Homo sapiens: one gene and its partner. The protein of the gene in region 2 purifies or fractionates together with the protein of the main gene of each other region. This does not show direct contact. Each region holds a gene or a part of one and is shown on either strand. Other genes may lie near its edges. The genes, in order: WDTC1 and USP3.

Region 1 (3,913 bases), on a different chromosome or scaffold from region 2:
TCCAGACAAGAGGCAAGGACAGGTCTGTGGGTGCTGGGGGAGTATGCTTCCTATATTCTGGCACAGGGTGGGAAAAGGAGGGGCTTCTCTGACCTCCTTTCACTTCCTCTTTCCCCGCTTCCCCATCAAAAGCACTCCCACTTCCCTTCATCCATGCTTCAGGAGGTTGGAGAAGTGAGTGGGGACGATTTGGAGCTCCTGGTGTGCACAACCCCCCTTACCATCAGCTTCCAGAGAGCTGACTCTGCCAGACTGTCAGGCCCCATCCTCCAGCCCCAGGAGGTAGAGGCCACAGCTGCTGTGGATCAGTCAGCCAGGACAGGGGGGGGTCTGGCTGAGGGCTTGCTGCCTGCTGGTCAGACCCTGCGTCCCCAGCCTGACACTTCTGGCTTCCCCAGACCACAGAACTGTCCTTGAGGGCCCCCTGCCTTGGATGTGGCTTTGAAGGCCAGCCGGGGGTGATTTGAGAAGGTGGATGGGGGAAGAGAGAAGGAGGGCTTGGGGAGCCTGTGGTGGGCAAGATGCCAGGCCTTCTGCTGCAGAGCTGCGGGTGCCTGGGGTGAGCCAGTGTGCAGTTGCACTCTGTGCCCAGCAGAGGGCAGCCTGACACCAGCTTTTGCCACCCTCAAGACCTCAGGGTTTCCTGGCTTGCTCCTTAACCATACTCTGTCTCCTGATGGGGGAGGCCTGGGCTGAGCCAGGATTCTCTTCGTCCTCAAGTCCCCTTGCCATGAGATCTGTCAGTGGTGGGCTGGGGTGGCCACAGGAAGCAGAGGAGACTGAATGGGGACCCCTTGCTTGCCACGTGGCTCCACCTCCAAGCCGCTCTTCCCTGCCTTCCCAGGGATGGTGACCACTATGATGCCCTGAGGGACTGCCTCAAGGCCATCTCCCTAAACCCATGCCACCTGAAGGCACACTTTCGCCTGGCCCGCTGCCTCTTTGAGCTCAAGTATGTGGCTGAAGCCCTGGAGTGCCTGGACGACTTCAAAGGGAAATTTCCGGAGCAGGCCCACAGCAGCGCTTGTGATGCATTGGGCCGCGACATCACAGCTGCCCTCTTCTCTAAAAATGATGGTGGTGAGTGGGCACTGAGGAGGGGGTGCTGTTACTCTTTCTCTTTGAGATGCTGCATGACATTCTGGAGAGGTCATGGTTCTGGGATTGGAGAGGCCTGGGTTCAGATGTTGATTCAGAAACCATGCAACTTTGGGGCAGTTACTTGGTGTCTCTCTCAGAGTGTTTCCTGGTCTGAAAAGGAGGCATGCCAGCACCTCCCACTGAGCGTTTCTATTGAGGATCAGCATGTTTAAATGGCATGTTTAAAGCACCTGGGGGAGTGCCTGGTGCCCAGGATAGGAGGAAGCTGAGCTCAGTCAGGCTCCCGCTAGGCATTCACACCTGCTTAGACAGGGCCCTGGTGGTTCCACTTGGGCATCTGAGAGGCAGAAGCTGGTCATTGTGTTTGTTCCGAGTGTACAAGTGCAGCAGAGACAATAGCGCAGAGCAGTAGAAATGCCTCAGGCTTGGAATGTGGGGCCTCGGTTCCAAATGCAGCTCCACCACCTGACTGTGTGGCCTTGAAGAAAGCACAGCCTCTCTACCTACCTGCACAAAGAGCACGAAGCCCTGCCCAGCTCCCCTCAGTGTGCTGGAGAATGAACTGGGCCATCGGAGTGTGGTCTGTAAACGTGAACGGTGAGCTCATAGGAGGCAGACATGGATCTTCACCTCTCTCCTTTGCAGTTTACCAACCACGTGATAAATTAATTTGTTTAATGAATAGTTATCAGACACCTGCCATGTGCCAGGCACTGTGCTGGGTCCTGGGAATAGAGCTGTGACTAAGTCACGTGGAATTTCTGTGTTTATGGCATTTACAGTCTAGTGAAGGAACCAAGTGATAAAGGAGAAACAAAAAAGTATGACAAGTGCCATGGGGACCTGAATGGTGTGCATGCTGGGAGGGGGTGGGCTTGATGGCATTCTGGGGTTCTTCAGGAAGAAACATTTAAACTAAGATCTAAAGGATCCAAAGGAAGCATTAACTAGATACAAAATATAGCTGTGTGGCCTAGCGCGGTGGCTCACGCTTATAATCCCAGCACTTTGGGAGGCTGATGTGGGAAAATAGCTTGAGCCCAGGAGTTCAATATCAGCTAGGACAACATAGCAAGATCCCATCTCAACAAAAGAAAAATTAAAAAAAATTAGCCAGGGGTGGTGGCACACACCTGTAGTCCCAGCTCCTCGGGCAGCTGAGGCAGGAGGATCACTTGAGCCCAGGAGGTCAAGGCTACAGTGAGCCATGATCACACCACTGCACTCCAGCCTGGGTGACAGAGCAAAATCCTGTCTCAAACAACAACAACAACAAAATGTAGCTGTGGGAGATGCAGAGCTCCTGGCATATGAACCAGCATGCTCCAAGGCCCTGAAGCAGGTATGAGTGAGTCACTTTTAAGGAACTGAGAAAACTTGTGTGACTTTACCTGTCACTTAACTGATCAGTGACTCTCATTTGGGACCCTAATAACTTGTCTTCCAGAGGGTAAGGGCATGGTCCTTACTGCCCTAAGTGCCATGAATCTGTTTATAAAAGTCACCCAGGCTGGGCTCGGTGGCTCATGCCTGTAATCCCAGCACTTTGGGAGGCCAAGGCAGGTGGATCACCTGAGGTCAGGAGTTTGAGACCAGCCTGGCCAATGTGGCGAAACCCCGTCTCTACTAAAAATACAAAAATTAGCTGGGCGTGGTGGCACGTGCCTGGTAGTCCCAGTTACTCAGGAGGCTGAGGCAGGAGAATCGCTTGAACCTTGGAGGTGGAGGTTGCAGTGAGCCGAGATCACGCCACTGCACTCCAGCCTGCGTGACCATCTCAAAAAAAAAAAAAAAAGTCATCCATTCTCTCTTTGCTAGTGCCTCACTCTACCCTCCCCTGCCTCTTACCTCCACAGAAACAGACTTTGAGTCTCTGCATCTTTGGGGCTTTCAGGCCCTCATTTAGGGACCTGAACCAGGGCCCTCCTGGCATCAAAGGTCTCCTCTTGAACATCCTCAGGGGCTAGATCCAAAGATGCATCTTCCTCACAACCTTTCCCCAGTTTTCCAGGATAAGGGTGGAGGCAGGTAGCTCTATGTTGTCAGACTTTGGACTGAAAACAGAGCCATAGGTGGGGGAAAATAGGGAAGGAGAGAAAGGAACAAGGCGCTTACCTTTTCTGGATCTCTGCCCCCAGAGGAGAAGAAGGGACCTGGTGGCGGCGCCCCAGTCCGCCTCCGCAGCACGAGCCGCAAGGACTCCATCTCAGAGGATGAAATGGTGCTGCGGGAGCGAAGCTACGACTATCAGTTCCGCTACTGCGGCCACTGCAACACCACCACGGATATCAAAGAGGCCAATTTCTTTGGCAGGTCCGAGGCCCTGAAGAGGAGGGTGCAGCCCAGTTGGCAGCGGGAGGTTGAGTGGGGAGTGTTGGGGCATAATGGTTTCAGAGAAGAATCTCAAATCCCTGCTCTGCCTCTGTACCCTTGGGCAAATGGCTTCACCTTTGTCAGCCTCTAAAGTTTTTTAATCTATGAAATGACCAACCTGCCATGCCCATTTATGAGGCCATAACAAGGACTAATAAGATAACCCAAGTAGAGCCTCCAGCGCAGTGCCTGAACTACTCCTTCATCCCCCACCTCCTTCTCCCTCTGTCTGCATGTGCCAGAGCTTGGTTTCTTTATCTGCATTCAAGGAACCTCCCTCTGCTTGAGAGTATGAGGCAGCAGCCCTCCAAGGCTGGGAATCTTGGCACATCTGTTTTGTGCTCAAAACTGTGCCCTGTGTACTAAGGGACAAACTCTGTGTTTCAGACACCATCATCCCCACCCCTCATTTGTAGATGTACTTTCTTTGGGTAGGTGA
Region 2 (3,854 bases):
CACAATGACTGCTGAGGAATCATTCTTTTTGCCTGTAAAATATAACAAAGGGCATCATTAAGTAGACCAGGTAATTACTGCTTGTCTCTCAAGGCTGCTGTCTTTATCAGCACTAACTAAATAAATTTGTTGGTTCAGTTGTACTTGTCCTGCAAATACAAGAATTACTCTCTTTGTTGGTTTTTTTGGTTTTGGGGCATACTTGTTTGCGGGGAGGTAAGATGGGAGTAAAGACCAAATACATGTAATGTTTAAAAAAAATGCTGTGACTCACTGACATGGTATAGGTGTTACCAGTGAGGTAAAGCCATGGCGTCTGCCTCCTTTTGAATCAGTATCTCATTCCCCCTTAGTTGTACCACTGGAAGTCACGACATGTCCATTATAGACTTACTTACTGCTTGTGTTTGGCATCTGAGTCTGAGGTGTGACCCTCTGGGATTTACTTGGATCATCACCCGCACTTCAGTTTATCACTGGGGGGTGTGCTTCCACAGGAGGAAATTTAGAATCTTCGCTGCTCTGGGTTTTAACACCTCTCTCTGGCCTATCCTGATTGATAGGACAAGTTGAAAATACTGTTGGAGTAAGTAAGTGGAGTTTTCGTTTTGTTTTTTGGGGGTTTTTGGAGACAAGAGTCTCTCTCTGTTGCCCAGGCTGGAGTGCAGTGGCACGATCTCAGCTCATTGCAACCTCGGCCTCCCGAGTAGCAATTCTCCTGCCTCAACCTCCTGAGTAGCTGGGATTACAGGTGCCCACCACTACACCTGGCTAATTTTTTTTTTGTATTTTTAGTAAAGACGGGGGTTTACCATGTTGGCTAGGGTGGTCTCAACCTCCCTCCTGACCTCAGGTGATCCGCCTGCCTCAGCCTCCCAAAGTGCTGAGATTACAGGCGTGAGCCATCACGCCCAGACAGTTTTGTTTTTAAAAAACAGATTTAACTCAAAGATTCAAATTTGGAACCAGAATCCCATTTAAAGAAAGCAGTTGTGGTTTCTACAAGTGTTCTAAGACAGTCCTGTGGTGGTTTTTTTTTTTTCTTTTTTTTGGTTGGGGGCGGTGGGGGTTGGTAGACATAGCCTACCAATTCTCCACAAGGGACAAAATGTATCTTGTGTTAAGCCAACGAGACTTTCTGGCAATTTTTTTTTTTTTTTTTTAATGGAGTCTTACTCTGTCCCTCAGGCTGGAGTGCAGTGTGGCATGATCACAGCTCACTGTAGCCTCAACCTCCCAGGCTCAAGCGATCCTCCCACTTCAGCCTCGAAGTAGCTGGCACCACCACACCCAGCTAATTTTTAATATTTTTACTAGAGATGGGGTTTCACCACGTTGCCCAGGCTGGTCTTGCACTCCTGGGCTCAAGTGATCCACCCACCTTGGCTTCCCAAGGTGCTAGCATTACAGGCATGAGCCACCACGCCCAGCCTGTTCTATTAAAAACATCTTGACCTTTTTTTTTTTTTAAGTTTATGATATAAAAACAGTCTGGTGGCTTTCCCTCAGGTTGGATATCTGAAGTTGTGGGAGCAGATGTAGCTCCATTTCCATTTTAATATTAACTGGATAAATCCCACATCTTCCCAGAACACATCTGCTAAACACTTTAACATGACAAGGAGCAAATTACAATTATGTGTAAACTTATATCATCCAGTACAATGGCCCCTAGCCACATGTGACTGAAATTTAAATTAGAAACTCAGTGCCTTCAGTCACACTAGCCACATTTCAAGTGCTCAGCACCCACATACGGCGTAGGACAATGCTGGTCTAAATTTTCACTCCAAAGAATAAAACTTTGCCATCATGTTTAGGTCTTACAACTTTGAGTCCTAAAAGATAATAGGGAGATGTGTGCTTAAATTAATTTACAATGCTAAATTATATTAGGTTAAACTGTATGAAACCCTGCTATTTGATGAGTTCTGATCTACAAAAATGACAGCTCCACCTGATCTGATGTATCACACATTAACATCACATCTAATTCAACCTGAAATGTGAGTCTCCTTTGATCTTGCAAAGTATCTCCTATGAATCCGGGCTCTTTTGCTTAGAAGGTAGACAGCTGTAACCTCTAACATTGATACTTCGATCTTCAGTCTCTCTGAATGGGCAGCTGTTAAACAGTAAAGGCCTGGGCAGAGTTGATGGTGAAAAAAAGCTGTATTTTTATACCAAATGGAACTTCAGCAACACGTTGGACTACTTTGTCGGGCAGAGTGGTCTTCAGACAGGTGATGCTGTTGGCTTAAGAGATGAACACGTCTTCTCTCTGAATTTGTTTTTATTGGTTGGTTTTACTTGAACAGAAACGTTTGAATGGTGTGAAGATTCTTTAGAAAAGTGATTGGATCCATCTCAATTGTGCACTTGAACAGCAGTGATGTAAATGTGCTTATTTGTGTTTTCATTTTTAACTGTGCAGCCTTACCACACCTATTTTGAAAGCTGATCTTTTGTCCTCTTCAGGGCTTTTCCCTTGTGCCATGTTGTCTCCAGCAATATATGTGGCTTCTGGCTCAGAGCTTCTGCTGAGGCAGGGCCTCGCGCTGAGTCACATGGCTCCTTGGAACAAGAAAACTTTCTCAGAAGTCCCCACACGGGTGGGTGACAGAAACAGTTTGTGGCAACACAAATCTCTCTCCATGGTGGAGAAACCTTTGCTTATCCACTGTATTCTACTCAGTGTATAGTGATGACAGATGTACTAGAATTAAACCAGTCAAGTGTACTGGCCCGGGGTGAGTGTTAAATGTGTATCTCGCCTGTGGAACCTACTCAGCAGCTTGGTTTCTGGGGTTGGGGGCATATTTATTTCTTAAAGCCAAACCTCTCCTTCATTGGTTTAGTGTACATAAGTCTATTTAGATACACTTATCCCACTTTAATCTCCACCAGCCCCTAAACTCTCTCCTGTACCCTCTGTTGCTGAAGTGGCCTCTTCACCTGGGCCCTGGAAAAGCCGATGGAAAAAGTCTGTTCCTGCAGCCAAGGCCTGGGTCCCAGGTGACTAGGAGTAGCCATAGGAAGGTGAGGAAGGAGAAGTGGGCATGTGGTGTCATCTGTAGTCCAAGGTCTCTGCGTCTCGTCAGTGGGTGCAGTGCCTTCCCCCTCAGGTGTGAGCGTGATGGACTCTAGACTGCCTTCCATGAGTGTTGGTCATGCTATGATGTCATCATTTGCCATTAAAACCCAGTTTGTATGATGCCAAGAGGATTAATTGTGCAAGTGACTGATTCATTTAAATTGTAATCACATCCCTTTTCTGCTTCACCAACCTGAACTGTTTTTAAAAATATCATTAAAAGTCTGTTCTCTTTCCTTTTGACTTATTTCTGAACACCTTTTTTCAGTAGAGCCACATAAATGATGATGTACTTACTCAACTCGTGGGCCTCCTCAGTCAACAGGTAGCAAGCTCTTACAGAATCCCCACGATTTGGAGCTGCAGTACCTGGGCCAGGATGAAGTGACCTGTATGGGCAAAGTGATGGCCTGGAGATGAGTGCCTGCAGTCAGGTGCCTGAGGTCCCACTCGGCCTTGCCCAGTGAAATCACCCTCAGTCTCTTGTGACTATTGATCTTATAAAAATGAGGCCCCTTCCCTTCCCCTTTAGAGCTAGACTCTACCCTGAGGCACTAGTTTTGGGGCTCTGAGCAAAGGATACTGGTCATCTTTTAAGGTAAAACAGGCAAATAAGTGCTTTTAAATAAACATCCTGTTTACAGTAAGTTCCTATAGACTACTTCCCTGCCCCCATGCCTCCTGCAGACAGAACCCTGTTTCCACAGTCATCCTTTGCCTGTTCTTGTCAGTCTTCTAAAATTGAAGACACAGGTGCCTG

What was found.
Region 1: the proteins of USP3 (region 2) and WDTC1 purify together in Homo sapiens (affinity purification with mass spectrometry; 2 studies listed by BioGRID and IntAct, with this or other methods). This does not show direct contact.

What each region holds. Positions count from the first base shown.
Region 1 is NC_000001.11:27,300,382-27,304,294, forward strand, and holds part of WDTC1 (WD and tetratricopeptide repeats protein 1), read left to right. Parts: intron 1-844; coding exon 845-1,080; intron 1,081-1,557; coding exon of another isoform or gene 1,558-1,844; exon of another isoform or gene 1,845-2,118; intron 2,119-3,239; coding exon 3,240-3,414; intron 3,415-3,913. UniProt on the Homo sapiens protein: May function as a substrate receptor for CUL4-DDB1 E3 ubiquitin-protein ligase complex.
Region 2 is NC_000015.10:63,591,304-63,595,157, forward strand, and holds the end of USP3 (ubiquitin carboxyl-terminal hydrolase 3), read left to right. Parts: 3' UTR 1-3,330; downstream 3,331-3,854. UniProt on the Homo sapiens protein: Deubiquitinase that plays a role in several cellular processes including transcriptional regulation, cell cycle progression or innate immunity.